Linked DNA regions of Homo sapiens. The protein of the gene in region 1 purifies or fractionates together with the protein of each later gene. This does not show direct contact. Each region holds a gene or a part of one and is shown in the gene's direction. Other genes may lie near its edges. The genes, in order: CTSG, TCF25, YTHDF1 and FREM2.

The links.
Region 2: the proteins of CTSG (region 1) and TCF25 purify together in Homo sapiens (affinity purification with mass spectrometry; 4 studies listed by BioGRID and IntAct, with this or other methods). This does not show direct contact.
Region 3: the proteins of CTSG (region 1) and YTHDF1 purify together in Homo sapiens (affinity purification with mass spectrometry; 3 studies listed by BioGRID and IntAct, with this or other methods). This does not show direct contact.
Region 4: the proteins of CTSG (region 1) and FREM2 purify together in Homo sapiens (affinity purification with mass spectrometry; 2 studies listed by BioGRID and IntAct, with this or other methods). This does not show direct contact.

The regions. Positions count from the first base shown.
Region 1 is NC_000014.9:24,572,960-24,581,470, reverse strand, and holds CTSG (cathepsin G preproprotein), read left to right. Parts: upstream 1-5,220; 5' UTR 5,221-5,247; coding exon 5,248-5,302; intron 5,303-6,016; coding exon of another isoform or gene 6,017-6,058; coding exon 6,059-6,206; intron 6,207-6,660; coding exon 6,661-6,796; intron 6,797-6,971; coding exon 6,972-7,226; intron 7,227-7,660; coding exon 7,661-7,834; 3' UTR 7,835-7,953; downstream 7,954-8,511. UniProt on the Homo sapiens protein: Serine protease with trypsin- and chymotrypsin-like specificity. Also displays antibacterial activity against Gram-negative and Gram-positive bacteria independent of its protease activity.
Region 2 is NC_000016.10:89,897,247-89,904,846, forward strand, and holds part of TCF25 (ribosome quality control complex subunit TCF25), read left to right. Parts: intron 1-1,310; coding exon 1,311-1,403; intron 1,404-1,520; coding exon 1,521-1,626; intron 1,627-3,388; coding exon 3,389-3,548; intron 3,549-6,871; coding exon 6,872-6,959; intron 6,960-7,600. UniProt on the Homo sapiens protein: Component of the ribosome quality control complex (RQC), a ribosome-associated complex that mediates ubiquitination and extraction of incompletely synthesized nascent chains for proteasomal degradation.
Region 3 is NC_000020.11:63,205,614-63,213,213, reverse strand, and holds part of YTHDF1 (YTH domain-containing family protein 1), read left to right. Parts: intron 1-7,600.
Region 4 is NC_000013.11:38,878,547-38,886,146, forward strand, and holds part of FREM2 (FRAS1-related extracellular matrix protein 2 precursor), read left to right. Parts: intron 1-284; coding exon 285-431; intron 432-1,737; coding exon 1,738-2,241; 3' UTR 2,242-7,600. UniProt on the Homo sapiens protein: Extracellular matrix protein required for maintenance of the integrity of the skin epithelium and for maintenance of renal epithelia. Required for epidermal adhesion. Involved in the development of eyelids and the anterior segment of the eyeballs.

The DNA.
Region 1 (8,511 bases):
TTCTATCCAGTATAGTTTCATTTTGCCTAGTTTTGAACTTTATATAAATAAAATTAAAGTTGTCTTCTTGGGTTCTTTTAACTTATGCTTGTAAGATTCATTTGCATAGCTGCATGAAGGAAGAGTTTTATTTTTATGGCTATGCAATATTCCATTATATGAATATACTACAATTTGATTATTCATGCTGCTGTTAGTGGACCTTCGAAGTGTTTCCAGTTTGAGGCTATCTTGAACATGCTGCTATGACCTTCTTGGACATGTATCTGGTAGAAATTTGCACCCGATGTTTCTCTAGGGTATATACCTAGGATTGGGAAAAGAGCCAACATGGTAGCTGCAACTGTTATTGCACTTTTTTCTTTTTTCTTTCCTTGAGACAGGGTCTTGTCTTGTCACCCAGGCTGGAATGCAATGGCACAATCATGGCTCACTGCAGCCTCAACTCCCACTTCAGCCTTCCAAGTAGCTGGGACTACAGGCACATGCCATCACACACAGTCTCGAACTCTTGGGCTCAAGTGATCCCCTCACCTTGGCCTCCCAAAGTGCTGGGATTACAGGCATGAGCCACCATACGTGGCCTTCATTGTGCTTCAAATGGGTGCTTCTCTAATATCTAGTCAGAGTAACACTTTTTCATGTTTATTGACCACTTCGATTTCCTGTTTTGAGATAAAACTGTTCAAGTCTTTTGGCTATTGTTTTATTAAGTTAATTGTCTTCTTCATTGCAAGTTTTTGTTTTGTTTTGTTTTGAGAGTCTCACTTTGTTGCCCAGTGAGGCAATCTCCACTTACAGCAACCTCAGCCTCCCCAGTTCCCCAAGCGATTCTCCTGCCTCAGCCTTCCGAGTAGCTGAAGTTACAAGTATGTGCCACCATCCTGGCTAATTTTTTTGTGTATGTTCCTAGTAGAGACAGGTTTTCACCATGTTGGTCAGGCTGGTCTCCAACTCCTGACCTCAAGTGATCGACCCGCCTCGGTCTCCCAAAGTGCTGGGACATGGGTGAGCCACTGCACCTGGCCAGATTTCTGAGTTCTTTATGTAATTTGAATATAAGCCCTTTGTTGTTTATGTGTATTTCAAGCATCTTTGCCTACTCCATGAATGGTCTTTTGTTTCTCTCAATTTAGATGTGTCAAATTCATCAGTCCTTTTCTTCATTATTAGTACTTTATATACAGTACTAAAATCTTTACCTATCATGAAGATATTCTTCCATTATATATTCAAATCATTATTCCTACTTGGATCCATAATCTACCTAGAATAGGTTTTTTGATATTTTGGGAGAAGAAGGTCAAGTTTTATTTTTCCACATAGAAAATATTTGTCTCTATAGGACACCATAAAGGCAATTTATTATCCCAGTACCATTTATTGGGGATAAAAAAAGAAAATAGTCTTTTCCCTATTATGATGAAAGATGCAACATCCATCATAAATCAATCCATCCATGTGTATGTCAGCGTCCACATGCGTGTGGAGTCCTTATTTCTGGTCCATTAGTCCATGTTTCTATGCCTCATCAATACCACGCTATCTTCATTCCCATGGCTTTGTTTGCAAAAGCAAGTCTTCCATCTTATTCTCATTCTCTAATGGTGACCTGGCTATCATTAGCCTTTTGTTTTCCAAATATACTTACAATCAGTTAAGTTCTATAAAATACCGCTCGGTGCAATGAATCTATATAGATCAATTTTGGGAGAGCTGACATTTTTACAATATTTAGTCTTCTTCCAATCTATGAACATGGAATCTCTTCATGTTTAGGTCTTCTTGAATGTCTCTTCATTCAGTTTTATAATTTTCACCAAAGAGGTCTTTCACATATTCTTTTAGATTTACATTTAGTTATTTGATCATTTCCATGCCATTTAAGTATTACTTTCTAAAAATTTCTTTCTAACAGTGTTGCAGTACATGTAGAAATATGATTAATTTTTAAATTGATTTTTTCTAGCAAATCTGTAAAACTCTTATTAATTATGGTAATTTACCTGTAGATGATTTTGGATTGTCTACGTATACTATCACTTCCTCAAATCATTACAATTTTGTTTTCTCTTTTCCTGTCTTTATACCTTTCATTTCCATTTCCTACCTAACTGCACTGGCTAAAACTGCTAATGTACTGTTTGTTGAACAGAACTGATAATAATTTGTATTCAGGCATTATTGTAATGTTTTGCTCTCAAAAAAAGGTTTTAACACTTTTCCATTAGGTATAATGATTGCTGTGGGAATTTTGTGATAACTTCTATCAGATTAAAGACACTCTTTTTATTCCTAGTCTGCTAAGAGTATTTTTTAAGTAAATAAGGGTAAATTTTAGGCCTTCATTGTTTCAATTAAATAATCACATGATGTTTCTTCTTTAGTCAGTTCATATGATGTGTTACAGCAATTTTGCTTTTCAAATGAAAAGTCAACTATGTGTTCCTAGAATAAACCCAAATTACTTATGATATATTAATATCTATTTGCTTATTGATTGATTTGGTTTGCATCAATATTCAAAAGTTTATTGACCTATAATGTTTCATTTCTATATTGTCTCTATTGGGTTTGGCATGGAGGTTATGCTAGTCCCATAAAGGGAAGGGTAGCATCCGTTCTTCAGAAGAAACTATATAGCATACTTTAAATATTTTCTACAGATTTCTCCTTAATGTGGTCATCAAAAACAAAAGTTGAAATTTTGTGGATTCAGCACATTCCCTTGGAACAATAGCAGCTTCCTAACTAGACTCTCATTATTCCTTCAACTTGATCTGATAGTCACTTCAATGCTGGTAGTTCTTCGAGGTTTGTAAGCTTTTTAGATATCTTAAATAGCTTTGATTACTTTTAATGAGAAGATTGCATGAAATTCTAGGTCACTATTAATGAAATTTCCTAATCAATCTTTATTACATGAGTGAATGCATATATTTTACTCCTTTTTTTTCATATGTGCAGGTTTTTCTTTATCCCTTTCTTCTATTTTTAAGTTAAACTAACATTTTTAAAACAAAACAAAATGTTGAAAATTTTTAATAAATTAAATTATGCCAAATGCTAAGGCACTAATAAAGGTGCTATACTATTCTCTCTTTGCTCCCTTCTTCTTCACGTTACTTTTCAGATGCATAAAGACGTTTTATAGAGCCTGTACAAGAGAAGAGGTTAAGCTCTGTGCAGCTCTAAAAATAAGTGAAAAAATTATATATTTATGTATAAGGAAAGGAACCCTAATTTTCATGAGATTTTCAAGAGGGCCTATTATACTCCATAAAGACTGGGAATTGTATCTCACACCAATCAGAATGGCTATTACTAAACAGCCAAAAAATAACAGATGCTGGCAAAGTTGCAGACAAAAGAGAACACTTATACACTGTTGGTGGGAGCAGTTCAACCATTGTGGAAAGCAGTATGGTGATTCTTCAAAGAGCTAAAAGCAGAACTACCATTCGATCCAGCAATCCCATCACTGGATATTTACCCAGAGGAATATAAATCATTCTACCATAAAGACACATGCACGCAAATGTTCACGGCAGCACTATTCACAAAAGCAAAGACACGGAATCAATCTAACTGCCCGTCAATAGACCAGATAAGGAAAATGTGGTACATATACATTGTGGTACATATACATATGCAGTCATAAAAAAGAATGGACTCATGACCTTTGCAGGGACATGGGTGGAGCAGGAGGCTATTAGCAAACTAATGCAGGAAACCAAATAATACATGTTAGTTAGCAAACTAATGCAGGAAACCAAATAATACATGTTCTCACTTATAAGTGGGAGCTAAATGATAAGAACTGTGAACACAAAGAAGAAAACAACAGACAGTGGGGTAAGAGGAGGGAGAGGAGCAGAAAAGATAACTATTGAGTGCTGGGCTTAATATCTGGGTGATAAATATGTACAACAAATCCCCGTAACATGTGTTTACCTATGTAACAAACCTTCACATGTACCCCCAAACCTAAAATAAAAGTTAAAAATAAATACCTAAGTAAAAGATTTTCAAAATAAAAGACAGAAAAAAAGAGATTGGGAATTGTATTAGTCTTCAATTCTGCTATTTCTGCAAAAATTATACTGGATTATAACGGTTTTCTGTGCATACACAGAATCTTCTAAATATTTTAAGTGTTTTTAATAATCCATTGTGTTACTCTGCAGTAATTTGCTGTTCTTTTCTCCCATTGTTGAGTATGCGGCTCTAATTCTTTTATAGGTAGCACAGCAATGAATGTACCTCCTTCTCAGAAGCTTTTGCTCCTGGGATTAGGTTGATGGGCCTCTAATGTCACCAGTGAAATGGGATATTAGATATTTTCCAGCTAGGATACGACAGCTCCCAATAAAACCAAATTACTAAGCCTTTTCTGCAAGCAAGGAGCCGTCTGGAACATAAGGACTTTAACCTTGGGTAGGAGACAGGCAAGCAGAAGTCTTCAATTGTGTCACAATTTTCACTGAGGACTCAAGTGACCTAAGAAAGTAATTGTGATTGTCAGAGCCTTGTTCTTCCTTTTCTTTCTCCAGCCGCACGCTTCACCTACTCAGGAGAGTGCCTACGCAATCTGACTTGACAGCTTCTAGAAAGAAATTAGAGCAACAGGGGTCTCAGCAGGGTGGTCTTGGGCCAAACACTGAAAGCAGGCAGGCTTACCCTTTCCTCTTCTGCCCCCTTCAACTTTTTCCTGATGTTCTTACCCACATCCCTCACCACACCACACCCTTTCATTCATCCTTGTCCCAGACTTATTAAGTATATACAGATAAGCAATCCAGGGAACTTGCATTCATTAGGAGAAACCCAGAAATTCAAAAGCAATAATGATCTAATCCCAGAGGAGTAGAAAACAGGAAGTGGGCAGCTGCCAGCTTTCTTGCTTTGCTGGAGTATTCTGGAATTTGATGGGTTGAGGGTTCTGGACACAATGCCCCAAGCCCCTTCCTTGTTGTGCTGGGTTCCTATTTCTGCTCTCGGCACTGACTTAGCAGCTGCTCAAGAGCTCACTATGTTGGCTTGGATTACACGGTCTCACCCACATCTCCGGCAGTTTGTGGGCAAACTTCCTGAGCAGCCTTGGGTGATGAAACCTTTCATGGTAGCAGGAGAATGGGACTGTGAATTCTCAATCCCCTGTCCCCACCCCTTCCTTCCTCTCTCAGGGCCTTAAAGTCTAGGAGGAGGAAGCACAGCAGCAACTGACTGGGCAGCCTTTCAGGAAAGATGCAGCCACTCCTGCTTCTGCTGGCCTTTCTCCTACCCACTGGGGCTGAGGCAGGTGAGTGACCATCCCCACCCTCAGAGGCCTGACCTCATCCCATAGATTCTTGAGCCAAATTGCCTTGGTATATCCTAATTCTGTACTGTTGAGCAAGTTATTTGAATTTGTGTTTCCTCATCTATAAAATGAGAATAATATTAATACCGATCTTGCAGAGTTGCCATGAGAGTTAAATAAGTTAGAGTATTTAAATGTCTTGGAATTGCCCGCACACTATAAGTGCTATAAAAACATGCTTTGTGTAAATAATTTGGCAGCATGTGTCAGACCCTACCTAGGAGGTAAGAATACAGCAATAACAGTACCATCAGCTCATGTCTAGATTTTTAAACACCAGTCCCACGTGGTCTTGAATTGGACTCAGAGGGCTCTGGGAAGCTCCATGAGGATAAAAGTATAAGGGAACTTCAGGAACAATCCTGTACTTACAGCAAAGCATTCTCCTCAATACCTGAGGCTGAAGCTGGCCTTGCCTGGAACAAGGGTTGTTCTCCCTCTTTTGGAGAGGAGGAGGGAGGTGAGGCCTAGGATGGGGAAAAGGGCTCCTTTCAAGACAGCAGTGTTTCCTGTAGAACCCTGGAGCCCCCTCCCAATCTGCTGCCCCATAGACTCCAAGCCTCAGCACCATCTCCTCCCTCTCCTGCACCCTCTCTCCTGCCGTCCCCATCTTCCAGCCTTTCTGGAGCCACCAATCTGGTACCCACATTGCAGGTTCAGCAAGCATAGAGCTAAGTGCCAAATGCTTCCTTCCAGGGGAGATCATCGGAGGCCGGGAGAGCAGGCCCCACTCCCGCCCCTACATGGCGTATCTTCAGATCCAGAGTCCAGCAGGTCAGAGCAGATGTGGAGGGTTCCTGGTGCGAGAAGACTTTGTGCTGACAGCAGCTCATTGCTGGGGAAGGTGAGGAGCTAAGGAACTTCCTGGCCAGCCAGGAACACAGCCCTGCGGAGCTCTTCGGTGGAAGAGCCATCTGAAAGAAGAGTTGTAGCAATGAAAGGGTGAAAGAAAGACCAAGTGAGTCTTTGCGGGAGGGAACAGGCCAGTGTAAATGAGGAGGAAAGGAGGATAAGATCAAAAAGAGCAAGAGGAAGAGATGGAAGACACATATTGGGGCTCAAAATATAAACTCAGGCTATTTATCAACTTAATCTGGGGAAGCAAACCTGAAGGCAAGTACCACCCTGTCATCCCTAGCTCAGAGCTGCTGAGAAAGAGGATACAGCTGAGCCCCAGGGCCCTCCCATCCCCTCGATTCTGGTTAGCTGCAGTCTTGCCCTCCCCGTGCTGTCTGCCTACCCTGCAGAGCTGGTGGACCATAGCTCCTGCAGCCCAGACCTACCTCTTGCTTTTGCAGCAATATAAATGTCACCCTGGGCGCCCACAATATCCAGAGACGGGAAAACACCCAGCAACACATCACTGCGCGCAGAGCCATCCGCCACCCTCAATATAATCAGCGGACCATCCAGAATGACATCATGTTATTGCAGGTACCACCTACCTGGCCCTCTGGCTCCTTCCTAGTGTGTCCGGGGACAATGGAGGAGGAAGTGAGGGCAAGGCTCCGGGGTGGCGGGGAGGGCATGGGATGTGTACTGCACCAGCGACCCCCGAGCCTTGGCTGGAGGCCCCAGCTGAGCGGGAACGCCTACATTCTTCCTCCAGCTGAGCAGAAGAGTCAGACGGAATCGAAACGTGAACCCAGTGGCTCTGCCTAGAGCCCAGGAGGGACTGAGACCCGGGACGCTGTGCACTGTGGCCGGCTGGGGCAGGGTCAGCATGAGGAGGGGAACAGATACACTCCGAGAGGTGCAGCTGAGAGTGCAGAGGGATAGGCAGTGCCTCCGCATCTTCGGTTCCTACGACCCCCGAAGGCAGATTTGTGTGGGGGACCGGCGGGAACGGAAGGCTGCCTTCAAGGTAAGGCATGGGCATTGGCCAACACACCCCGGGAGAGAGGGGCCCGTGCAGAGCCAGGCAGTGCGAACAGATTCCATCCCCACAGCCTCAGCCTGGCAGCCAGACCAGGGTGGGCTGGGGATTGTTTTCCCCATCAACCTGGTCTCTGGGGGAATAGGAGGAAGACCCACAACACATACATAGGCAACATTCTCCTGGAGAAGGGAGAGGTACCTTGACTCAGATTGGGCTGGAGACAGTAATTAAGGCAGAGCTGAAGTCCAGCGACCGAAAAGATCCAGAGGCTTGGCTCCTGTACCCCACCGATCTTCCATCTCACACACACCCAGCAATTGAAGGGGCCCACCCACCCCTGCCTTCCCTGAGAGCCCGGAGCTCAGGGAAGCAGGAGCAGGGAGGCCTGTCTCAGTCTCCCTTCTCCTCTCTACCTACAGGGGGATTCCGGAGGCCCCCTGCTGTGTAACAATGTGGCCCACGGCATCGTCTCCTATGGAAAGTCGTCAGGGGTTCCTCCAGAAGTCTTCACCAGGGTCTCAAGTTTCCTGCCCTGGATAAGGACAACAATGAGAAGCTTCAAACTGCTGGATCAGATGGAGACCCCCCTGTGACTGACTCTTCTTCTCGGGGACACAGGCCAGCTCCACAGTGTTGCCAGAGCCTTAATAAACGTCCACAGAGTATAAATAACCAATTCCTCATTTGTTCATTAAACGTCATTCAGTACTTAGTTTGTTTGGATTGCTACAACAAAATAGCACAAATTGGGTGGCTTATAAATAACAAATTTATTTCTCACAGGTCTAGAGGCTAAGAAGTCTAAGATCAAGTCACTAGCAGATTCAGTGTCTAATTAGGGCCCATTTTCTGGTTCACAGACAACCATCCTCTCCCTGTGTCCACATATGGCAAAAGGGGCAAGGGAATTCTCTGATGTCTCTTTTACAAGGGACCTAGTCTCATTCAAAGAGCTCAGCTTTTACGACCTAATCACATCCCAAAGGCCCCACCTAATGCCATCACATTGGGGATTAGGTCTGGGAAACATAGGGAAACACTGTCTCTACACAAAAATTTTAAAATTAGCCAGGCATGGTGGCATGTGTCTATAGTCCCAGCTACTTGGGAGGCTAAAGTGGAAGGATTAGTTGAACCCACGAGGTTGAGGCTTCAGTGAACCATGCACTCCAGCCTGAGCGACAGAGCAAGACACCATTCCAAGAAAGAAAAAAAAAAAGACTGGCAGGCCAAAAAGACAGAACTGAAATTCCAAAAAAAAAGACCTACT
Region 2 (7,600 bases), on another chromosome or scaffold:
CTCTCTTCTTTCAGATACTTCTGCCCCTAAAGCCATCCCTCTGGCATCAGGCCTCGCTGGTCAGACCTAGACTGGCTTCCGCCAGGCCTTCCCGCAGCCTGTCCTGTGGGCCCTTTGTGGAGCAGACCAGCTTCTGTCCGCTGTCCTGCCTCTCCTGTGTGCAGTGCCCTGTTTCTCTGGCCGCCCTGGGTTGTCTGCAGTGTGGGATCCGCTCCTACCCTCTCAGCCCTCCTGGCAAGCCAAGGTCCGCTGACCCGTTCTGCACAGATTGTCTGCACTGTGTGCTGGGTCTGAATTTCCTCCACTGGTTTTCTTTATGTTAGTTTTGTCTCTTCCAATGAAATTCTTAGTTCTTTGAAGTAGATTATAAAATATTAATATTTCCCGACGCGAAAGAGACAGTGGGCTGTTGATGGAAGTAGCAGCCCACCAGCATCCGAAAGTCACAGGGCTCCATGTATCCAGCCTGAGTGCTGTTAGCCACTGTTGAGATTGGAGGATAAATTAAGATCGTAATTGTAACAAGAGATTTTAACTCTCTTCCTGTAAATGATAAATAATAAACAAAAAAACAAGATAAAGATTTCAGCGGGGCGTGGTGGCTCACGCTTGTAATCTCAGCACTTTGGGAGACCGAGGCAGGTGGATCACAAGATCAGGAGATCGAGACCACGGTGAAACCCCGTCTCTACTAAAAATACAAAAAATCAGCTGGGTGTGGTGGCGGGTGCCTGTAGTCTCAGCTACTTGGAGAGGCTGAGGCAGGAGAATGGCATGAACCCAGGAGGCGGAGCTTGCAATGAGCCGAGCCGAGATAGCGCCACTGCACTCCAGCCTGGGTGACAGAGCGAGACTCCGTCTCAAAAAAAAAAAAAAGATTTCAAAGAAGTTTGATTTTCAGTATGCAAATTCGTGTATAACTCTGTAAAGGACAAGGAGAGCGCACACCTCCTCTCCAGACATGGATCTCTGTGTGCTGGGCACGTAGAAAATGCCAGCAGAACCCAGAGAGCAGAATGGGGGTGGAGCGGGTGCTGACCGGGGCGCTAAGCAGTGTGTGGGGTGGAGCGGGTGCTGACTGGGGCGCTGAGCAGTGTGTGGGGTGGAGCGGGTGTTGACTGGGGCGCTGAGCAGTGTGTGGGGTGGAGCGGGTGTTGACTGGGGCGCTGAGCAGTGTGTGGGGTGGAATGGGTGGTACTGGCCAGGACGCTGAGCAGAGGGCGGGGTGGAGTGGGTGCTGGCCGGGGCGCTGAGCAGAGAGCATTCTCCTTTGTGTCGTTGTAATTCATGTGGAACTATTTTGGATCTAGGAGCTTCTACCTGGCCCTCTACAAGCAGATGAGCTTCCTGGAGAAGCGAGGCTGCCCGCGCACGGCGCTGGAGTACTGCAAGCTCATCCTGAGGTGAGTGTCTGCTCAGGGCCAAGCCCGTCCACGCTCCCTGTCCTGGCTGCAGGCCCACTCTCAGCCTGACGATGCCCCTGTTCCCCTTTGCTCTGCTCTCTGTGCTGCCTCCGGAAGTCTCGAGCCGGATGAGGACCCCCTCTGCATGCTGCTGCTCATCGACCACCTGGCCTTGCGGGCCCGGAACTACGAGTACCTGATCCGCCTCTTCCAGGAGTGGGAGGTGGGTGCGAGCCTGGTGAGGCCCCGTGGAGGGACGGACACCTGCTTCTCCTTCTGTTTTCTTGGTTCAGTATCTGTGCGCTCAGGGGACGTTTGGGGATGAAACGATAATCGTCTGAGGGCAGAACCACGTCCTCCTGCCTTGTTTGTCTCCCTTGCCGCCTCTACGGAGTGGAATGTGGTTTTCCTAGGGACAGTACAGCAGCCTTATGTCAGAATCCTCATACGTGTGTACACATGCTCAAACGTGTGTACACATGCACACGTGTGCCTGCAAGGACTGTGATGCTGGTAATGATGAAAAACCGACAACTCCCGAGCTCCTCATGGGCAGTTCAGGAAGATGCAGCCGGGAGGTAGAAGGAGGGTTGGTTGCGTGGGGCTGACACAGGGACCCCCAGCACGTCTGTCCTGTTCCATGGGAAGAGTGTGAGTACAGCAGGAGAGACTTGAGCTCTGTCCCCAGTAACTCTAACACAGACACGTGTTGGAATGATAATTTCGGTGTATTGGGTTAGATATAACGTATTAATCTCACCTGTTTTGTCTTTAATGCAGCTCCCAGAAAATTTAAATTGGGCCGGGCATGGTGGCTCACGCCTGTAATCCCAGCACTTTGGGAGGCCGAGGCGGGCGGATCACCTGAGGTCAGGAGTTTGATACCAGCCTCAACATGGAGAAACCCTGTCTCTACTAAAAATACAAAATTAGCTGGGCGTGGTGGTGCATGCCTGTAATCCCAGCTACTCGGGAGGCTGAGGCAGGAGAATCGCTTGAACCTGGGAGGTGGAGGTTGCGGTGAGCCGAGATCGCGCCATTGCACTCCAGTCTGGGCAACCAGAGTGAAACTCCGTCTCAAAAAAAAAAAAAGAAAATTTAAATTGACACCTGGGCTCCCATTATGTTCCTATGGGGCAGCACTTATCTGGAAGGACACGGGCTTTGTAACGCTAACCTCCAGCAGGGCCTGGGGCTGGGGAGAAGGCGACAGCTCTTGACTTTCTCTGCTTCTGTGTTGAATTTTTTTCATAGCACATGTTCATGGATAATGAAAGTGGGTAAATTATTTTGAATTTTTAAGCATTTGGCATAGTTGGCCAGGAAGTCTCACCCCCAGGAATGTGGTTTATAGAAATTCCTGGAGCTCACAAAAATGTAGGTGCAGGGAAACCTCAGGGAGTCCCCCAAAATGGGGCTGCAGAAGAATGTTGATGATGGTGTTTAAGGTCACAAAACTGTGAGTCTGTGATCCCATTTTGATAGAAAAAAATGCAGTGAGTCACATGTCTACAATATGTGACATAGGCTGAGAAAGGCAAGAGAAACTGGCACGGTGGTAGACTGCTCGGAAACTCGCGTGGCGGGCTGCTCTCGGAAACTCGCGCGGCAGTGGGCTGCTCTCACAGACTCGCGCGGGGGTGGGCTGCTCTCGTCTGTAAATTTTCCACATTGAGAGCACCAACTGCTCAGCTTCAGAGAGGAGCCTGGGCGGCAGGTGGGACCCTCACTCCCCACGGTGTCCTCGCTCCGGCTCAGTCTACTTCTCAGGCCCTCCCACGTCCTCTGTATCTTCTGCATGCGGAAAGCCCCCCAGGTGGACGTTTTAAGTTATCTTTATGCTGAGTTAGGAAGAGGCCCTTGCGTTGCCTGCAGAATATACCTGCTCGGGGTAGGGCTCACTGGTGATGTCAGAGCGTCTGCAAACTCACATATTTTGTCTTTATGACTTAAGGCTCCACGCTCTGTTTCTTCGTCCCTCGTAGGCTCATCGGAACCTGTCCCAGCTCCCTAATTTTGCCTTCTCTGTTCCACTGGCGTATTTCCTGCTGAGCCAGCAGACAGACCTCCCTGAGTGTGAGCAGAGCTCTGCCAGGCAGAAGGCCTCTCTCCTGATACAGCAGGCGCTCACCATGTTCCCTGGAGGTGAGTGAGCGCTGTGTCTCGCCTGGGGTAGGGGTGTGTCCTGTCAGCCGTGGGGGCTGCTCTTCCTGGTGGTGGAGGCCAGGTCCCAGTCCTTCCCCACACTTGTAGAAACATGCATTCTCTGGTAGGGCCTGCAAACCTGCCCTACCAAACCTGAAAGAGGGTCGGCTCATCTCGGAACCCGCTGCGTGCCAAGCCAGGCACGAGGAGGTGGCAGGCATCCCGACCCCCGTGGGGCCTGTGTTCTAGAGTGCAGAGACAGAACTGGCTGGGAGGTGCGGGGCATTGGATTGTACCAGTGCTGGGGAGGAGAGCAAAGCAGGGGAAGGTCTCGGCAGCGCCGAGGTGTGGCCGAGAGGGTTGTGCTCTGCACCATGCTGGGATGCAGAATGGAGGCCTGTGCCGCCCAGATGGACTCAGCCTGCACAGCCGTGACCCCTGACTGCATCTGGGTAGCTTCGATCCACGCACATGTGGCGGGCACAGTGAGGCTGCCACCTGGTCAGACCTCGGGGCTGACCCTGCCTGACAGCATGTGTGAAATCCCTCTTTAAGATGGGCCTCCTCCGAGGAGCTGTGAGGGGTGAGGGTGAAATCCCTCCTTAAGACGAGCCTCCTCTGAGGGGCTGTGAGGGGTGAGGGTGAAATCCCTCCTTAAGACGGGCCTCCGGCCGGGCGCGGTGGCTCACGCCTGTAATCCTAGCACTTTGGGAGGCCGAGGTGGGCGGATCACGAGGTCAGGAGATCGAGACCATCCTGACTAACACGGTGAAACCACGTCTCTACTAAAAATACAAAAAATTAGCCGGGCGTGTTGGCGGGCACCTGTAGTCCCAGCTACTTGGGAGGCTGAGGCAGGAGAATGGCATGAACCCAGGAGGCAGAGCTTGCAGTGAGCCGAGATCGCGCCACTGCACTCCAGCCTGGGCAACATAGTGAGACTCCGTCTCAAAAAAAAAGAAAAAAAAAAAAAAGACGGGCCTCCTCCGAGGGGCTGTGAGGGGTGAGGGTGAAATCCCTCCTTAAGACGGGCCTCCTCCGAGGGGCTGTGAGGGGTGAGGGTGAAATCCCTCCTTAAGATGGGCCTCCTCCGAGGGGCTGTGAGGGGTGAGGGTGAAATCCCTCCTTAAGACGGGCCTCCGGCCGGGCGCGGTGGCTCACGCCTGTAATCCTAGCACTTTGGGAGGCCGAGGTGGGCGGATCACGAGGTCAGGAGATCGAGACCATCCTGACTAACACGGTGAAACCACGTCTCTACTAAAAATACAAAAAATTAGCCGGGCGTGTTGGCGGGCACCTGTAGTCCCAGCTACTTGGGAGGCTGAGGCAGGAGAATGGCATGAACCCAGGAGGCAGAGCTTGCAGTGAGCCGAGATCGCGCCACTGCACTCCAGCCTGGGCAACATAGTGAGACTCCGTCTCAAAAAAAAAGAAAAAAAAAAAAAAGACGGGCCTCCTCCGAGGGGCTGTGAGGGGTGAGGGTGAAATCCCTCCTTAAGACGGGCCTCCTCCGAGGGGCTGTGAGGGGTGAGGGTGAAATCCCTCCTTAAGATGGGCCTCCTCCGAGGGGCTGTGAGGGGTGAGGGTGAAATCCCTCCTTAAGACGGGCCTCCGGCCGGGCGCGGTGGCTCACGCCTGTAATCCTAGCACTTTGGGAGGCCGAGGTGGGCGGATCACGAGGTCAGGAGATCGAGACCATCCTGACTAACACGGTGAAACCACGTCTCTACTAAAAATACAAAAAATTAGCCGGGCGTGTTGGCCGGCACCTGTAGTCCCAGCTACTTGGGAGGCTGAGGCAGGAGAATGGCATGAACCCAGGAGGCAGAGCTTGCAGTGAGCCGAGATCGCGCCACTGCACTCCAGCCTGGGCAACATAGCGAGACTCCGTCTCAAAAAAAAAGAAAAAAAAAAAAAGACGGGCCTCCTCCGAGGGGCTGTGAGGGGTGAGGGTGAAATCCCTCCTTAAGACGGGCCTCCTCCGAGGGGCGGTGAGGGGTGAGGGTTATTTGCGTGCAGCTAGTATACACACATTACGTGACCACTCATCGCCTATTAGGATGTCCTGGAAGCAGCATCCCTTTCTCGGTTCTGTGGGTTTCCAGGGCTCTGTCTGGGCCCCGAGGAGGCCCACGGCGTGGGGTTGGGCAGCTTCTAGCACAGGCAGAAACGTGCCCCCCAGAGGGGCCTGGCCAGGCCTCAGTCTGCTCGCTGACCCCAAAAGTTTCGTCCCCTGTGTCTAAGAAGCACCTTTGTCCTCCTCTGGGGCTGCATGCAGCTGGCCATATGCTCCACCAGTGCAGCCGTGTCTGGAAACGCGGCTGGGAGGCCCTGTCCTTTGTGGCAGAGCTGTGCTGCTGTGTCACAGGCTGTAGCGTCAGCACCTCCCTTGAAGGCAGGTGGGCTGCCAAGAAGCCGCTGCCACTTACCCCAGAACACTGGAGATCACTGCAGGCTCTGCCCTCGGGGCCCGTTCCCCTACATGGCGGCCTCTGCCCTCAACCTGCAGTGCTGGCTCTTCCACTGGGCACAGGTGGCCTCCGCTCCCACCAGCCTGCCATGGGGTCCAGTCTTTGTGATTAAAACATCCAACCGGCCGGGCACGGTGGCTCACGCCTGTAATCCCAGCACTTTGGGAGGCCGAGGCAGGAGGATCGCTTGAGCATAGGAGTTCGAGACCAGCCTGGTCAACACGGTGAAACCCTTTCTCTACCAAAAATATAAAAATTAGCCGGGTGTGGTGGCGGACGCCTGTAATCCCAGCACTTTCGGAGGCTGAGGCAGGTGGATCACCTGAGGTCAAGAGTTCAAGACCAGCCTGGCCAGCATGGTGAAACCCTGTCTCTACTAAACATACAAAAATTAACCGGGGCGTGGTAGTGTGCGCCTGTGATCCCAGCTACTCGGGAGGCTGAGGCAGGAGAATCGCTTGAGCCTGGGAGGTGGAGGTTGCAGTGAGCCGAGATTTCGCCAACGCACTCCAGCCTGAGCAACAGAGTGAGACCCTGTCTCAGAAAAACAAAAAAAAACCCAACCCCATGTGTGTGGAGGGTGGTGGGTGAGTCTTCCCTTGGATGCAAATGGGGGCCCTGGCAGCCTCCTTGGGGCTGGTGTGAAGGAGACCCCCAGCCTCAGACCCTGGGCACGCCAGCAGCAGCAACTCAGAATACCACCCGGAAGCAAGCCGCTGGCCCTGCAGACTCTCCACCTTAGAACAGCTGTGTCTGTGACAAGGACCTCGCTGTGTCCCTTACTGCCTTGGGGGCTAGGAGTGGCTGGGGTGTGTGCTGAGGGCCCCCACAGAGCCTCCGCTTCCCCTGCAGTCCTCCTGCCCCTGCTCGAGTCTTGCAGTGTGCGGCCCGACGCCAGCGTTTCCAGTCACCGCTTCTTTGGACCCAATGCTGAAATAAGGTAAAGAGTGGCTGGTGGTGCCCATCTGTGGGTGCCTGTGGGTTCGGAGCCTGGGAGCCATTTTCACTCATCCTGAGAGGCCCTGAGGGACCTGCTTCCAGCAGCAGGAGGGGCTGTGGTGGCGGCCTCGGGGACTGTCATTTGACATGGGACGGCTCTGGAGCCCTCATCTGTGTGGAAAAGTCCAGGTGGGACAGCTGAGCAGCCTCCAGCTTAAAAACGAGGCTCATATAAAGAGGGTGCCAGGCGTGGCGGCACATGCCTGTAATCTCAGCTTTTTGGGAGGCCGGCTTGTGCCTGGGAGGTCAAAGGTACAGTGAGCTGTGTTTGTGCTGCTGCACTCCAGCCTGGGTGATGGTGAGACCCCGTCTCAAAAAACAAAATAAACAAAGAGGGAGCAAACACAGGAGAAAGTGCACGCCTTGGGGTCATCCCCTGGCCCTCCAGGGCTCGCCCTGTGTGCACGCAGATGGACCCGCCCTGGGTGCATTTTCACATTTCTGTGACGTCAGTCCTGCTTCCTAAAGAACATAACCTGCCCAACAGGCTCACGGCACATACCTGTGTGCCCCAGCCCCACGCCCTCAGGCCAGCAGCCCAGGGGCCTCCTTTCACTCCAGGCCACAGGGCACTCCCTGGAC
Region 3 (7,600 bases), on another chromosome or scaffold:
GTGATCCACCCGCCTCGGCCTCCCAGAGTGCTGGGATTATAGGCGTGAGGCACCGCGCCCAGCCTGGTTTCAATTTTAACTCCACCACTGACTGGCCTGTGTCCATGGCTTGCCTTCTCTTGCCTCAATTTCCTTTTCTGTAGAAGAGAGAGAGTAGTAACTGTTTGTAGAATTGTTGGGAGGATGACATCAGATGGTGCACATAAAGCGCTGAGACAGTACCTGATACAGCAGGGCCCAGTGAGTCATAGCTGCCCTGTTTTCTTAGGTAATTCAGGCTTTCTCTGCCTTGGCACTGTGGACATTTTGCACGGGAACATTCTGTTTTGGGGGCTGTCCTGTGCATTGTTGGATGTTTAGCAGCCTCCCTGGCTTCCCACCCACTAGATGCCATTAGCAACTCCTTCTCCCCATCCCCAGTTGTAGCAAGCAAAACTGTCTTGGTGGATGTTTTTTGGGGGATACAGTTGCCCTGGTTAAAATCTACTGGGAGCTGCTCTCTCTCCTCTGTGCTGCTGTTGCAGCAAAACTCCCAAGAGAAGCGGTATCTGTTTATGTCTAAGAGTCCAACTCGGGAATCAGACTTCCCCTGCCTCACTTTCCTACCTCCAGGCCGTTGGCTTGGATGAGGGGCTGCACCTCTGTGAGCTCCTCACTTTGGTGAGCAGGCCTCATGGGGCAGCACAAAGCAGATGCTCTGAGTGCTCCATTTCGTGTGCTGTGATTCACATTCCTTCCTCCGCCACTCCAAGTAGCCCTCAGCTACTGGGCATGTTTACTTTAAAGTAAAACCAGGCTTCACCTCTTCTCTGTGAAGGAATAAAACTAGTCTGCCCTTTTCTGAGGTGTCTTAGAACTTCTTAGAATGTTCCTTCATCCCCCTCCCTCCTACTGCACTTGGCGAATCAAGCAGCTTAGAGACCAAGAAACCTTGTACAGGTGGAGCCTCGGCAGCGCTGCCCCGCGCTCCGACCCTGCTTCTGTTTCTTGTCTCTTGGTTGCCTTCTGAGAATCTGCCCTTCCTCTGGGCAGAACTGACTTGACTTTAGTGATGGGCCTTTGGATAGAGGTAATGGCAGGAAGTTAACTAATTTTTTGAATTTCTTGTTTTCTAGTGTGTTCTTATTATTTTAGTACTTTAATGGTATTATGTACTGAATTTTAGCCAATAAAGGGGGAGGGAGGTTGCATCAGTACACTTAAAAGTGTGTGTGTGTGTGTGTGTGTGTGTGTGTGTGTGTGTGTGTGTGTGTATTTTGGAGACAGGGTCCTGCTGTTACCCAAGCTAGAGTTCAGGGGCATGATTATAGCTCACTGTAGCCTCAAATTCCTGGGCTTAAGCAATCCTCCTGCCTCAGCCTCCTGAATAGCTGGGACTACAGGCATGCACCACTACACCTGGTGATTGATTGATTGGTTGGTTGTAGACACAGGGTCTCTTTGTGTTGCTCAGGCTAGTCTTGAACTTCTGGGCTCAAGTGATCTTCCTGCTTTGGCCTCCCAAAGTGCTAGGATTACAGGTATGAGCCACTGTGCCCAGCCAAAAATATTTTTATAAAGTCGGAGCTTTTGTGTTGTTTGGGAGGATTTCTTTACAAATCGATTATTTTTATGTCAGTGGGTGTCTTAGCTCCATATGTAGAGTATACAGTATGGTTTTATAACTTTTGATTTACACAGACATACCTTTGGAGCCATGGCCACAGTTAAGATAGTGGGCATATCAATAGCTCTGGGTCCTTTTTTGTTGGAGACAGGGTCTCACTCCATTGCCCAGGCTGGAGTGCATGATGTGATCATGGCTCACTGCAGCCTCGACTTCCCAGGCTCAGGTGATTCTCCCACCTCAACCTCCCAAGTAGCTAGGACTACAGGCATGTGCCACCACGCCCAGCTAATTTTTAAATTTTTAGTAGACATGAAATATTGCTGTGTTGCCCAGGCTGGTCTTGAACTCATGGGCTCAAGCAATCCACACGCATCAGCCTCCCAAAGTGCTAGGATTATAGGCATGAGCCACTAGTGCCCAACCTAACCCTGGGTACTTAAAAGAGAAAAATCTAGATATGGTTTGTAGTAGCCAGTTGGAGGCTACCGTGTTTTGTGTGAAACTGTCATACTTAGAATGGTTTAGAAAGTCTTAGGAGAATGCCTGCCTGTTAGGTTGGTTTAACTTGTAATGGGCTGTGAGGGGTTGTTGCCGTGTGGTGGGGGTCCTTCCCTCAGAGAGGCCTCACCCGCCTTGCTGTGCTTCTGGTGCTAGAGTTTCAGTCCTAGTTGCCCCTGAGGCGCTTGCGACTGTAGCCGCTCAGTATCTGTCTTCTAGTCTGTGACTTGAATGGGAGTTGGGGGAGCAGAGGAACTGGGAGTGAAGGGCTCTGGGTTGGGCTTGATTGTTGTGATTTTCTCTCTTTTTTTGTTTTTTGAGATGGAGTTTCGCTCTTGTTGCCCAGGATGGAGTGCAGTGGCGCGATCTCAGCTCACTGCAGCCTCCACCTCCCTGGCTCAAGTGATTCTCCTGCCTCAGCCTCCCGAGTAGCTGGGATTACAGGCACGCGCCACCACGCCTGGCTAATTTTTTTTGGTATTTTTAGTAGGGACGGGGTTTCTCCATGTTGGTCAGGCTGGTCTCGAACTCCCGACCTCTGGTGATCCCCCTGCCTCAGCCTCCCACAGTGCTGGGATTACAAGCATGAGCCACAGTGCCCCGCCGATTCTCTCTTTTGAGGCTTTTCCTGCTCGGGGACTTCTGGTTTCCCAGTTCTCTGTTGTTTTCTGAAAGGAAAGACTGTGAAATGACCCAGAACAGTTCCTACTCAGAGTTTAGAAGACACTGTCTTGGCATGATGCCTGAGTTGGGAATAGATGCCGCTGGCCCCCCAGGCTTCCTGCACACTCCCTGACCAACAGACTGAGTGTGTTTGCTGTGATCCCACTGACAGAAATTACCAAGGCCATCTGGGCATGCCTGTACCTGTGCTGCCGGATGCAGTTTGGTCAGCAACAGACCACAATATGATAGTGGTCCCATAAGACTATGATGGTGCTGAAAAATTCCTGGCACCTGGTGACGTTGGAGCTACCATGTTGAGGGCAGTGTATTACTCGTGTCTGTGGTGCTGCAGTAGGTGTGACCAAACCTACTGCCCCAGTCATACCAGAGTATACACCTACAGTTACGTACAGTACCATACAGTACGTAATAATTGATGATAAACGACTGTTACTACTTTGTGTATTTGCTATACTTTTAAGAGCATATTCTGCCTACTTACTAGAAACAAAGTCAACTGTAAAGCAGCCTCAGGCAGGTTCTTCAGGAGGAATCCAGAAGAAGGCAATTGGTGTGACAGGAGATGACAGCTCCATGTGTGTTGTTGCCCCTGAATACCTTCCAGTGGGGCAAGATGTGGAGGTGGAAGATCCAGACCCTGTGTAGGCCTAGGCTAATATGTGTTTTTTGTGTCTTTTTGGGTTTTTGGTTTTTTTGTTTTGTTTTGTTTTGAGGCAGGGTCTCTCCCTCACCTGGGCGGAAGTGCAGTCATGACTCATTGCAGCCTTGACCTCCTGGGCCCAAGTGATCTTCCTGCCTTATTTTTGATTTTTTGTAGAGATGGGGTCTCACTGTGTTGCCTGGGCTGTTCTCGAAATCCTGGGCTGAAGCAGTCCTCCTGCCTCGGCCTCCCAGAGGGCTGGGATTATAGGCATGAGCCACTGTGCCTGGCCGTGTCTTCATTTATAACAAAAAAGTTCAAAAAGTTAAAAAAAATTTAATAGAAAAAAGCTTATGGAATAAGGATATAACAAAAAAAATTTTTGTACAGCTATATGATATATTTGTGTTTACAAAAGAGTCAAAAACCTTAAAGCTTTTAAAAAAGTAGTTTGTAAAGTAAAAAAGCCATAGTAGGCTAGGGTTTATTATTGAAGAAAGGAAAATTTAAAAATTGAGTGTAGTGTTAAGTGGACGGTGTTTCTAAAGGTGACAGTGGTGTCCAGTGAGGGCCCAGGCCTTCACATTCTCTCCCTGACTCACCCAGTGCAACTCAGGCCTACCTGCTCCATTCACCGTAAGTGCTCTGTACAGGTGTCCCGTTCTTGATTTCTTATACCGTATTTTTACTGTACCTTTTCTGTGTTTAGATAATGTTTAGACACACAGATACTTATCATTGATGTACAGTTACTTCCATTATTCAGTACAGTTACACACTGTACAGGTTACGGCCTCAGTGTGTGGTAAGGATACTGCCTCCATGCTCACACGTCTCTGTTTGTGTGAGGACACTGATCACACAGTGACGAAATTGCTCATCAGGTTTTGGGTGGTTTTTTTTCACTGAACACAATGCCTCATCAGAGCATCTAGGACTTCTTTGAGAACAGCCTGGAGATGCTTGGCACAGGGCTTCCTGCTGTGCCTGGGCAGCTCTGGTGGGCCCGGGGTGACCTGAGGGCCAGCAGGGGAGTGTCAGTTTCTTGTGGCTGCATCTAAAAATATGGGCTTCCTTAAAATACCCAGTGGCAGCGCCTGCTAAGTAGGCATTTGCCATCACAACGGCTTCCCAGAAACGCAGCTGGAAGGACATAGTGGGATCTTAACGTGCTTCTTACTGGCAAGTTGCTGAAACAAATGCAGAAATTCTGTCAGAAACTGCTGTCTCTGCATATTGATGCCACCAGCTGAGGGGCTGAAATTGCAGCCTCAGAGGGACCAGTCCTGAAAACAGATCTGAAAAGTGAGCAGCCAAGTAAGTAAATTAGGGTTTTTCGGTTATTTTCCTCTAACATTTTCTCTGTGCTCCCTAAGGCTTCTCCTGAAGAACAGGTCATCCTGGTAGGCCTGTTCCCAGTCCTGGGTCAGAGCTGCTTCCCAGGAGCCATATCACTCCCTCACTTTTCAGCAGTACCCTTAATACTTTTCCATTTTACATAATTAATTATTTTGTTTTGTTTGTTTGTTTTTATTAAGCAAATGCTTCTCTCTGTTCCTCTTGGGCTTCTGAAGGGATCCTTTCTGCTTCTCCCTCTAGTCTCTCCTTTTGGTCATTCCAACTCCATCTCAGAAAAATGGATATAGGAAGTAAACTTAACCATTGAACTTCAACTTAAATGGTTCTGGTCATTCGGATGGAAGTTTCTTTTTTTTAATGTGGTTAAATTTGAGTAAATATGTAAAACTGCTCTTAGTTCTTTTTTGTTTGTTTTTGTTTTTTTTTTTTTGAGACGGAGTCTCACTCTGTCACCCAGGCTGGAGTGCAGTGGCGTGATCTTGGCTCATGGCAGCCTTCACCTCCCAGGTTCAAGCGATTCTCCTGCCTCAGGCTCCGGAGTAGCTGGGACTACAGGTGCCTGCCACCATACCCGGTTTAGTAGAGACGGGGTTTAACCATATTGATCAGACTAGTCTCGAACTCCTGACCTTGTGATTCACCTGCCTCGGCCTCCCAAAGTGCTGGGATTACAGGCCAGAGCCACTGTGCCCGGCTAAAAATGTGTTAGCCTTTCTTCGATGAGGTCGTCAGTTCTCCGCAGGGGCTGCAGTGAGGCGCCTAGCATGTGGAAGTGTTCAGCAGTCTTCTGTGGAGGCGGCTGCAGAGTAACAGGATCATGGTTTTGCTTGTATTGTCCTTAAAAGATCTGTTTATGCCACTCATTTACGAGGACCAAAATATGCTTGCTCAGAGGTAGTAATGTGTTAAGAACAAGCTTTGAATTTGTTCTTTTTTTTGGAGGGGGGTGGGGGGGACAGAGTCTTGCTCTGTCACCCAGGCTGGAGTGCAGTGGCTCGATCTCGGCTCACTGCAAGCTCCGCCTCCCGGGTTCACGCCATTCTCCTGCCTCAGCCTCCTGAGTAGCTGGGACTACAGGCACCCACCACCACGCCCGGCTAATTTTTTGTGTTTTTAGTAGAGAGGGGGGTTTTACAGTGTTAGCCAGGATGGTCTTGATCTCCTGACCTTGTGATCCGTCCACCTCAGCCTCCCAAAGTGCTGGGATTACAGGCATGAGTCACCGTGCCCGGGGTTAATGCAGCTGTATCCCTGAGAAGTAAACTTTCACACTCATAACTCAGTGCCCATGGAGCCGTGGCACTAAGGAATGTTGAGGGAGCAGCACAGCTCGCCTCCAGCACTTGGCAGCGAGTGAGCGCTGAACCTGTGCCTGGCTGTGCGGGAGACAAAGGGAGATCAAAGGCCCTGAAAGGAGGCTGCATGTGTTTTCCAGGCAGCCCGAACTGTGCGTTTCCAGTTGTCTCCCACGCACTGTGACCAGGACTGTGAATGGGACAGCTTCCCTCACCAGGGAAGGAGTGTGGGGCAGCAGCCTGACATGTGGCTCATAAAGAAGGCAGAGGACAGCATCTCCAGGTTTTCTTATGTACAGAATGACTGACTTCACATAGCTTTACAAATTAACCTGCTTCTTTACCTTCAGAGTTTTGGAGGAAAGATGGCAGATGTAATAGGAAATGGGCTGTCAGTGAGATTGAGGTAAAAATGGAAATCCGGCCCACAGAACCCCAGGTCACTGTATCCAGCCTGCCTGTGTGGCCGTGGAACCCGGTGAGCACAGAAAGTATCAGGAGGGTTTAGGGCTGCCAGCAGAGCTGATTAGCGTCACCGTCTTCTGTGGCTCAGGATGTGAATGGTGGTGATCTGGAGCTGAAGGATTTGCAGAGTACTGGCTAGAACTGCAGGCCCTGCACCTTGGGTAGAGGGAAGCTGGATGGGTCATTTATGGGCTCTCTGTCTGTGCAGCGTGTGTGCTAGGTGTGTCCATTTAATACTTAAAACGGATTTTCAGGAATGTTACATGCCTCATGTAATGTGGATTTTTTCATGTGGTAAGTGATGTCCTGTCTTAGTTAAGGCTTTAGGTGTAAGTCAGAAGTGTCCCTGGGCATCTGTTTCTGTGGCCTGACTCCTCTGGTTGGTGTTGGGGCCAAGTGGATTAGAATACCACACAGCCATCGAGGTCTTTTTTTCCCATCTGCTCTTTTTGCGTGGAAGGAAGATGTGTTGTGATTGCAGCGCTGCTGAGGAGCACGTGTCCAGCTAATGGGAGGAGGAGGGCTGGCTTCCCTGTGGGGGGGACTGTCCCCTTGCCTGCCGTCCTTGAAGGCACCTGCGGCCAGTGACTCGAGGAGCAAGTCCTGTGCACAGACCGCCCCCCTGATTCGCTCACCCCCCCAGTCTGGGCCTGTTGGCCAGGGCAGCACCCGAGGGAAAGGCTGCAGCAAAGGAGCCAGCATCATGGAAACTGTTTTGAGGGAGAATAAGCTCAGATTAATCTCATGTTTGTGGAACACTGATAGCATCCCACTTGTCTTCTTATACCCCCAGAATCTCAAATTTATATTACGGGGAAACAGCAGTTAGTGCATTTTAAAAGATGATTCTGGGGCCAGGCGCTGTGGCTCATGCCTGTAATTCCAGCACTTTGGGAGGCCGAGGCGGGTGGATCACCTGAGGTTGGGAGTTCGAGACCAGCCTGGCAAAGATGATGAAATCCTGTCTCTACTAAAAATACAAAAATTAACCGGGTGTGGTGGTGGGTGTCTGTAATCCCAGCTACTTGGGAGGCTGAGGCATGAGAA
Region 4 (7,600 bases), on another chromosome or scaffold:
GCACATGCCTGGAGTCCCAGCTACTTGGGAGGCTGAGGTGGGAAGATTGCTTAAGTCAGGAAGTTCAATCTATGATCATGCTACTGCACTCTAGCCTGGGTGACAGAGAAGGTCCCCGTCTCTTAAAAAAAATAGAAAAACCAACAAAATGATCATTTTTAGTAAACCAAATGGTGACATTTTATAGTAATTTGTACTTGCACAAAACAAATAGAGAAACATGCTGTCCTGGCAAAAGCCGTGGCATTATCTACAGCAATCACCACTTTCCTTACTGCTTAAAGGACAAAGCTCAGCCAGAGACACAAGCGACCAGTTTTGGAAATGTCCTATTTAATGCCAAACTAGCAGTGGATGACCCTGAAGCCATTCTCTTAGTGAATCAGCCTGGATCTGATGGATTTAAAGTCGACTCAACACCACTCTTTCAGGTAGGCCAAAAACAAGCTCATTTGTAGTAGTTGTGTACCCACATGCAAGTTATGGAACATTTATATGCCTCAGATGTCTCATATGTAAATAGCAGTAATAGTAATATTGCATACAGTTAATGGGAACATTGAATAAGATATGGCAAATAAACTACATAACCCTATGCTGGGCATATGGTGAGCACTCCATAAACCCAGCGTTTATTATTTTTGTTAGCAATATATCTGGCTTTCATAGCTCTTATCACTTTTATTAATGTATTAATATTATTTTAAGACTATGTGTAATGAAGAGTCTTATTTAGCCCAGAATATAAATCTGTGTCTGACAGTTGAGTAATCTGCTTTTCTTATTCAAAACTTCCTTCCTGCTGACTTTTCACCAATATCTTAATTAGAGTGATCTTGTGTGAACTGCTGAACTCAGGAAAGCAATTGTGCACAGCTCCACTCTCAAAGATTTCAGAAACCAAGATACAAATTCCTGACTCAGGGATCAAAGGTGGAGGGAAACACAGGCAGCTGCCACAACACTGAGCAAATGCCACAAATTTCAAGAGGTGCTTACACTGCAAATCTCTGCCGAAGCAAGTGCGGCTTTTAGGATATTTACTGAAAATTAACCCGACAGGATGGCCTGGAGAAATGTGTTATTTTCATTCAACCTAAGGAAGGATCTTAAGAAAGCATGTTTGTTATTCTCAATCTTTTCAAACAAGAAGTTGAAGTATGATATGTTTTATTTTTATTTTTGCCATTAAATCTCAAAGCATCTGACCTTCCTAAATCTTGCATGCTTCAAAGACTCATCAGAAAATTCATCCTTTTCCAAAGCCCCAGAAAAGCTTGAAAATTGATTTTTTCCCCCTATGGTCTTATATGCAATAAGCAGCAAGACACAGTGAAAAGAGTCCTGGGGTTCAGAAGATTTGAGCTGTAGTCCTGCCTCTGCCACTAACTGGTTGAGTAACATTGGGCAACTCACTTAACTGCTGCATATTCTAATTTACTCATTTTTTTAGTGAATAAGCTAGACTGTATAATCTATTAATAGTTCTTTAGAACTCTCTCATTCTATGACAACAAGTATCACATATTCACTCCCTTAAGAGTTGCACAGGATATATCACAGAGTGCTTTGCACAGAGCCTTGCACCTAGTACTCATTCAAAAATATTAAGTAAGTTAATTCTGCAGACTAAAATCATTTATTAATATCTCTGCCATTAATTTCTCTTGCAAAGAGTCGTGGATTAGATTGACATGGTATCTAGTATTTCCTAATAAATAGAGTTGTGCTTTCTAGGTCGCTCTAGGCCGAGAATGGTATATACATACGATCTATACAGTGAGATCGAAAGACAATGCCAATCGAGGTATTGGCAAAAGAAGTGTGGAGTACCATTCTCTGGTGAGTCAAGGAAAGCCCCAATCCACCACCAAGAGCCGGAAGAAGAGAGAGATCAGGAGCACACCCTCACTGGCATGGGAGATTGGTGCTGAAAACAGTCGAGGAACAAACATCCAGCACATTGCCCTGGACCGCACCAAGAGGCAGATCCCCCATGGGAGAGCACCTCCAGATGGCATCCTCCCCTGGGAGCTCAACAGCCCCAGCTCTGCAGTCAGCCTGGTCACTGTGGTGGGAGGCACCACGGTAGGGTTACTCACCATCTGCCTCACTGTCATTGCAGTGCTGATGTGCAGGGGCAAGGAAAGTTTCAGGGGGAAGGATGCCCCGAAAGGCTCCAGCAGCAGTGAGCCCATGGTGCCCCCACAGAGCCATCACAATGACAGCTCAGAAGTTTGATGACTGCAGGTAGAATTCAACCTTTTCCGTAAGTGCCTCGGAAAAGATCACAATGGAACCTTAAATACTTCTGGTAAACCATAGAGAATGGAGGATGGCTGTGATGAAGCTGCTTAGAGAATATGACTGTACTAATGGAGTTTGATTTGAATTCTCCATACTCTTTTTTGCATCAAAGGACAAATTAAGGCATCTTTCCTCTTGCCCCAAAGGCAGCAACAACGTACTCATATGTACACAGAGCCATGATGTGAGGAATGTACTCCTCATTTTAGACATATTCTCTATGCAGTGGAGATAAATCTATTAAAAGGTGCTAACAGACTCTCTTACAAGTGTAAGAGGAATCTACTGTTGCTATGTTAGTGTGAATGTTGAAGGTGCAATTATCACATTGTTTATTAATTGTATAACAGATTATTACTAGAAAGGTTTTTGTTGCTAGTCTGGAAAACTGGTGAACACACTGTTTATTATGACAAGTTTTCAAATAGGTGAAGACAGCATAGAATTATGACCAGGGTGGCTCAACCCACAAATCAACTGATCTACTACTTGGGAGACAGTGGAAGGAAAGATAGAGGGAAGGAAGTTCACTCACTTGAATTTGAATTGCTTCTCATTCTCATCAGACTCTCCTTGTTTTGTTTGCATATTTAATTTTAAATTAAACCAAAGAATATGTTAATTCTGAAAGAGATTTTTAAGAGATGCTGCTCTGTTTTGGCATATAGTGAGTAATGGTAGAGCTCTTGCATGGTAATATACCTTATTGGTGCTCAACATTTGTGGGAAATTAGAGGGTTGGTGAGATTTTGGTGATGAATAAATGCCATAGAGTTAGAGTCACTACAAGACAATGTTCTCTAAGAACTGAGCCTAGATGTTTGCAGTATTGAACCCATAAATGATAATAAGAAACATTGTTACAGATGGTGAAGGGAGAAAGTGGTATTTATTAATATAATGTGTATAATCAGAGTGCCTCTTATACATACTTTATAGAATAAAGGAACATTTTGACAGATGAGGTTATCCCTCGGAGTAGCGTAATCACACAATAACATTTAGAACTTAAATTGGCTACAGGACATTTTATTAGCTTTCTATCCAGCATCTGGTCCAAACGATGGGACTCTCTGCAACTATCATTCCAGAAATGGTCTTGGAGGTGGCCAGAATCATTGACCATATTTTTATTTGGTTCAAGAAGACATCGCTCTGGCATCCCCAGTTCAGTGAACTGGTACAATGTGGTCCCTCTCAATATTTAAAAATATAATTTGTAACAGTGCTTACCATTCACCTCCCAAAGCCAAGGAACTTGAGTGAGCTTCCTTGGCAAGCCTCCCATTGCCTTTCTGCATCAATGTGTTTGTTACCAAATAGCAGAAATTTCGCTTAGAAGGGGAAAACTTCAGCTTTCCAAAAGCTAGTAAACATGTTTCAAAGAAAAATAAGGTCAGGAGAAAAAGAATAATGCCTACAGATTATCCTTCAGATGCTGGCTAGAATCCCCTTTGACTTCTAGCCATAAGCTGGCCACATTGGACATCTTGGTCACTGCAGAATTTTAAAAGGCAAACTTCTCAGAACAGATGTGCACATCTTAATTTGGTGTCTGTAAGTATCAACCATTTCTTGATCAAGATAAGGAAGCAACACTGATACTGAGAGAGAGGTCATATGTCCAATAGTTGCCTTTCTTCTCTTAGGCAGCTCTGCACTTCATGTTCAGTTTTTTAAAAATAGACTGTAGTATCCTTTCATTGGAGAATTTACAAAAATATCATCTACAGCTCAAAAGTCCCACTAACGGCTTATATGAACAGAAAGTACTGTGTAGCCCAGGAGTTTATTTAGCAAGATAAATAGTGGTAATTTCTTAATCATTCCCCTTTCCTTTGCTTTACCTTCTGGCAGATGCTTAGCTACTTCTTTGGCTACCTCATAATTTGTATGGGAATGAACATGAATTAGGGAACTTCAAATAGTGCGTAGACTTTTCCCTACTTACCATTGGGTTCAATTGATGTAGACTGTTAGAGCAAGTATACTCAATCAACTTGCTGATATTTTAGTAGTTAACAGCTTCCGAGCCTATCATGCAATTTGGAGTCTGTCAATGAATATAGCAATCGGTGAAGCATTACTGTACGAAGTCTGTTTTCAGGCTTTGGGTCAAGCTGGTTTTATACCAAATTTCACTCTACAATGCATATTCTAATGAAGCTACTTTATATAAATTGGAGAGCTTATAAAATGCAGAACATTTCTATCCTATCCTACCAAATATTTATCCTTCTCTGTCCTCTATTCTCTTACTCTCCTCTCTCCCTTTTTCCTTCCCTTTATTCCCTTGAAAAAAGAGAATCTGTGGGAAATAGGCAGATATAGCTTTTTAAAATATAAAGTACTTGGGATTTTGCATTATTTTTCTTAATATCTATTTACTAAGTATGTAATTTAATATACATTAATTATTTTTTGAAACTCTTGTTAGTGGGAAGAATATGGTAAATTTTTTGTTAAATAAAATAGACCCTTATGTTTAGCATTTTGTTTTTAGAGAACTATTCTGGTACTATCAGAACAAATACATAAAATAACTTCCCATAGAGAACAGGATATAGCAATAATAGCTCCTTAGATACTCAGTGGCTTCTGACTCCAATCAAGGTCTTGTTGATATTATATAGTAAAAATAAAACCAAAAATAAATATTATTCAAGTGGCTCTTCTAAGCATGTGAATCATGAAGCACTGAAATATGTATTTTAATGATGATCTTATTTATTCCCATTTTTGCCCTTAGTTAACATTTACTGGTGCTCACCTAGGATTGGCTATTCTGAGGGATTGCATAGAAACCAAGCTCCACTTGCTGTCCTTGGGAAGGTTATAACTGAATGCAGCTCTTTATTTGGACTAAAGTGTCAGGATATGCATTAGATTCTCTCCTGAACCAAAAACACAACAGTCATTATCTGTGAACCATAATTTAAAAATCTTTCTAGAATAACAACAGCAGACTCCACTCTTGTTTGTCTAAAAGAGCCCTACTGGGTATGGATCATTCTGATGACAGATTTATACAAAATGATTCAAACCAGTAACTTAGTAAAATTGACCTTCGCAAAACCTCACTGGGGGAGTGCCTTGTAGAGCTGTGGGTGGGACTGCACATTCTTTTCCTCTTAGTAAAAGATAGGCCCACTTTATTCCAAGAATAACACTTAGCACATAAACTCTTCTTCCAGCTCGTTAGCAGCATTAGCACCTTCTGAATTCCACCCTCTCAGAAGAATCCACAGTGTTTGAACAATTTGCATAAAGGTCAGCTAGCATCCTGCTGCCAAGCCACTGCATAGCATTTGTGATAAGAAGGACCAACTCTAGGCTCAATATGAAGGGATTTAGTTCTGTAAGCAGCAAAAAAGCTTCTTTATCAAGTCATCTTACCTCTAATTCTTTTCCAGTGTGCCAACTCCAAAGTCAACATTAAAAATGTAAATGGACCTGTGTAAATATCACAGAGAGCTTTTCCTTATACATCTCAATGCTGAGAGTTAAAATATTCCCAGGTTAAAATTTTTTTAAAGTACCAATAATAGAGCTAAATACAATGACATTTGCTTTTAAAAGGTGGATATTTTATTTCTGCTTTTTGAAAATACTTATTTAGTATTGACTTGGAAGCCAATTTGGTCCTTTAATAAGTAAAGAAAATAATATGTTTAAAAATGTAAATGTTTTACAAATTTGAAACTTTCATAATTGTATTAATCAGAAAACAAGCACATTGCCATTCTTTGAAACTCATGTTTCTAGACATGACAGCAGTAATAAAAGGATGAAAACAAGTGTCTTCACTAAGCGTATGGCCAATAAATGGGACCCAAACGTTCAATCTGTTCAGTTTACCAAGGTTCAGAAATACGTAATTTAGCAGGAAACTATAAATACCAGTGCTATCACAGCCACACATACACACACACAGACATAAAATAACCAAACATCTCATTTCTAGGAAAGAGATAACACTAAAGGCATCATAGGTTTAACTGAAATACGTTATATGAAGTTTTACAAAAAGGTCAACAGAAAGCTCATTTGTGAAAACATACTCTCATGGGAGCTTCTTTAACATTAGTTCAGAGGTTAATATATTTCCTGGAGGTGTTTTCCTAGAATTGATTGCACTATTGCATGGTAATAACATTTAATTGTTAAGGAAACATTATATATAGGTTCAAATTATCCCTTAATGTTGATTTCTCCCCTTTTCCATGGATTTTGATACTAAGAAACAAAATGCTTTGAGATTTTGGTAACTATTTTGATTTTGATAAAACATGTTAAAATAGAAGGACATGATATTTTTCTATAGTTTCCATCAGGAAGAGTACATCAGAAACTTCTCCATAAGGAAAGAAAACTGACTCTCTCTTGAACTAGTGTTGACAAAATACACTAATGTCTTTCTTAATTTTATTTTATTAGGAGAAAAATCAGAATATTAAATTTGCAAACTTTTGAACAGCAGTAATAGCTCCTTAGACACTCAGTATCTTTCTTCCCTATCTTTCAAGCACATTTAATTTCTTTCCCCTGGTATTTGTTTGCTTTGTGTTTTTTCAATATTTTGTTTGCTAAAGAACAATAACAACAACAAAGCTGGTCCAGCCCTGACACCTACTTTTGCTTTTTTTCTTTCTTTCTTTTAATTTGTTGAACTATAGGTTTCTTTCTGAGATGTATTTTTCATTCTTCCAATAATGCTCTCTTTTTCATTTCAAAACCATTACCACTTTCAATATGTAATTAACATCCTCATTCATCAGAAAGCTGGTAAGTCCACACAGCATTTGTGCAGTATCCCTTCTGTGTAAAATGTTAAGGCTTTCAGATGAAAGAAAAAAGAACTTCCTGCAAAAGATCAAAAGCATCATACTAAATAAAATGATGACAATATGTGCCTTGATTTTTCTCTCAATGGAGGTTCAACATTGACATTTAAGATGTAAAAAAAATTACTTTGATGGTTTAATTAAGAATAATAAGTCAAATATCACATGTATGTAGTTCTTTTGGATGACCGAATACCTTAAAATGAACTAAATAACTGAAATAAAGTGTTAAAATGTTAACAGCGTTGAAGTTTTTAAAATTATAATTATCAAATGCACAATGTTCTTTTACTATGCCAAATGTTGCCTACACTGATTACATGATTGTCACAGTTTAAGTGAATTTCTACTATGGATCTTTATTTTCCCCAATGTTTGGATCATCCTCTCAGATAAGAATTGTCAGTATTGCACCTCAAGAAAGAAGAAAAAATAAGAATGTAAATTTT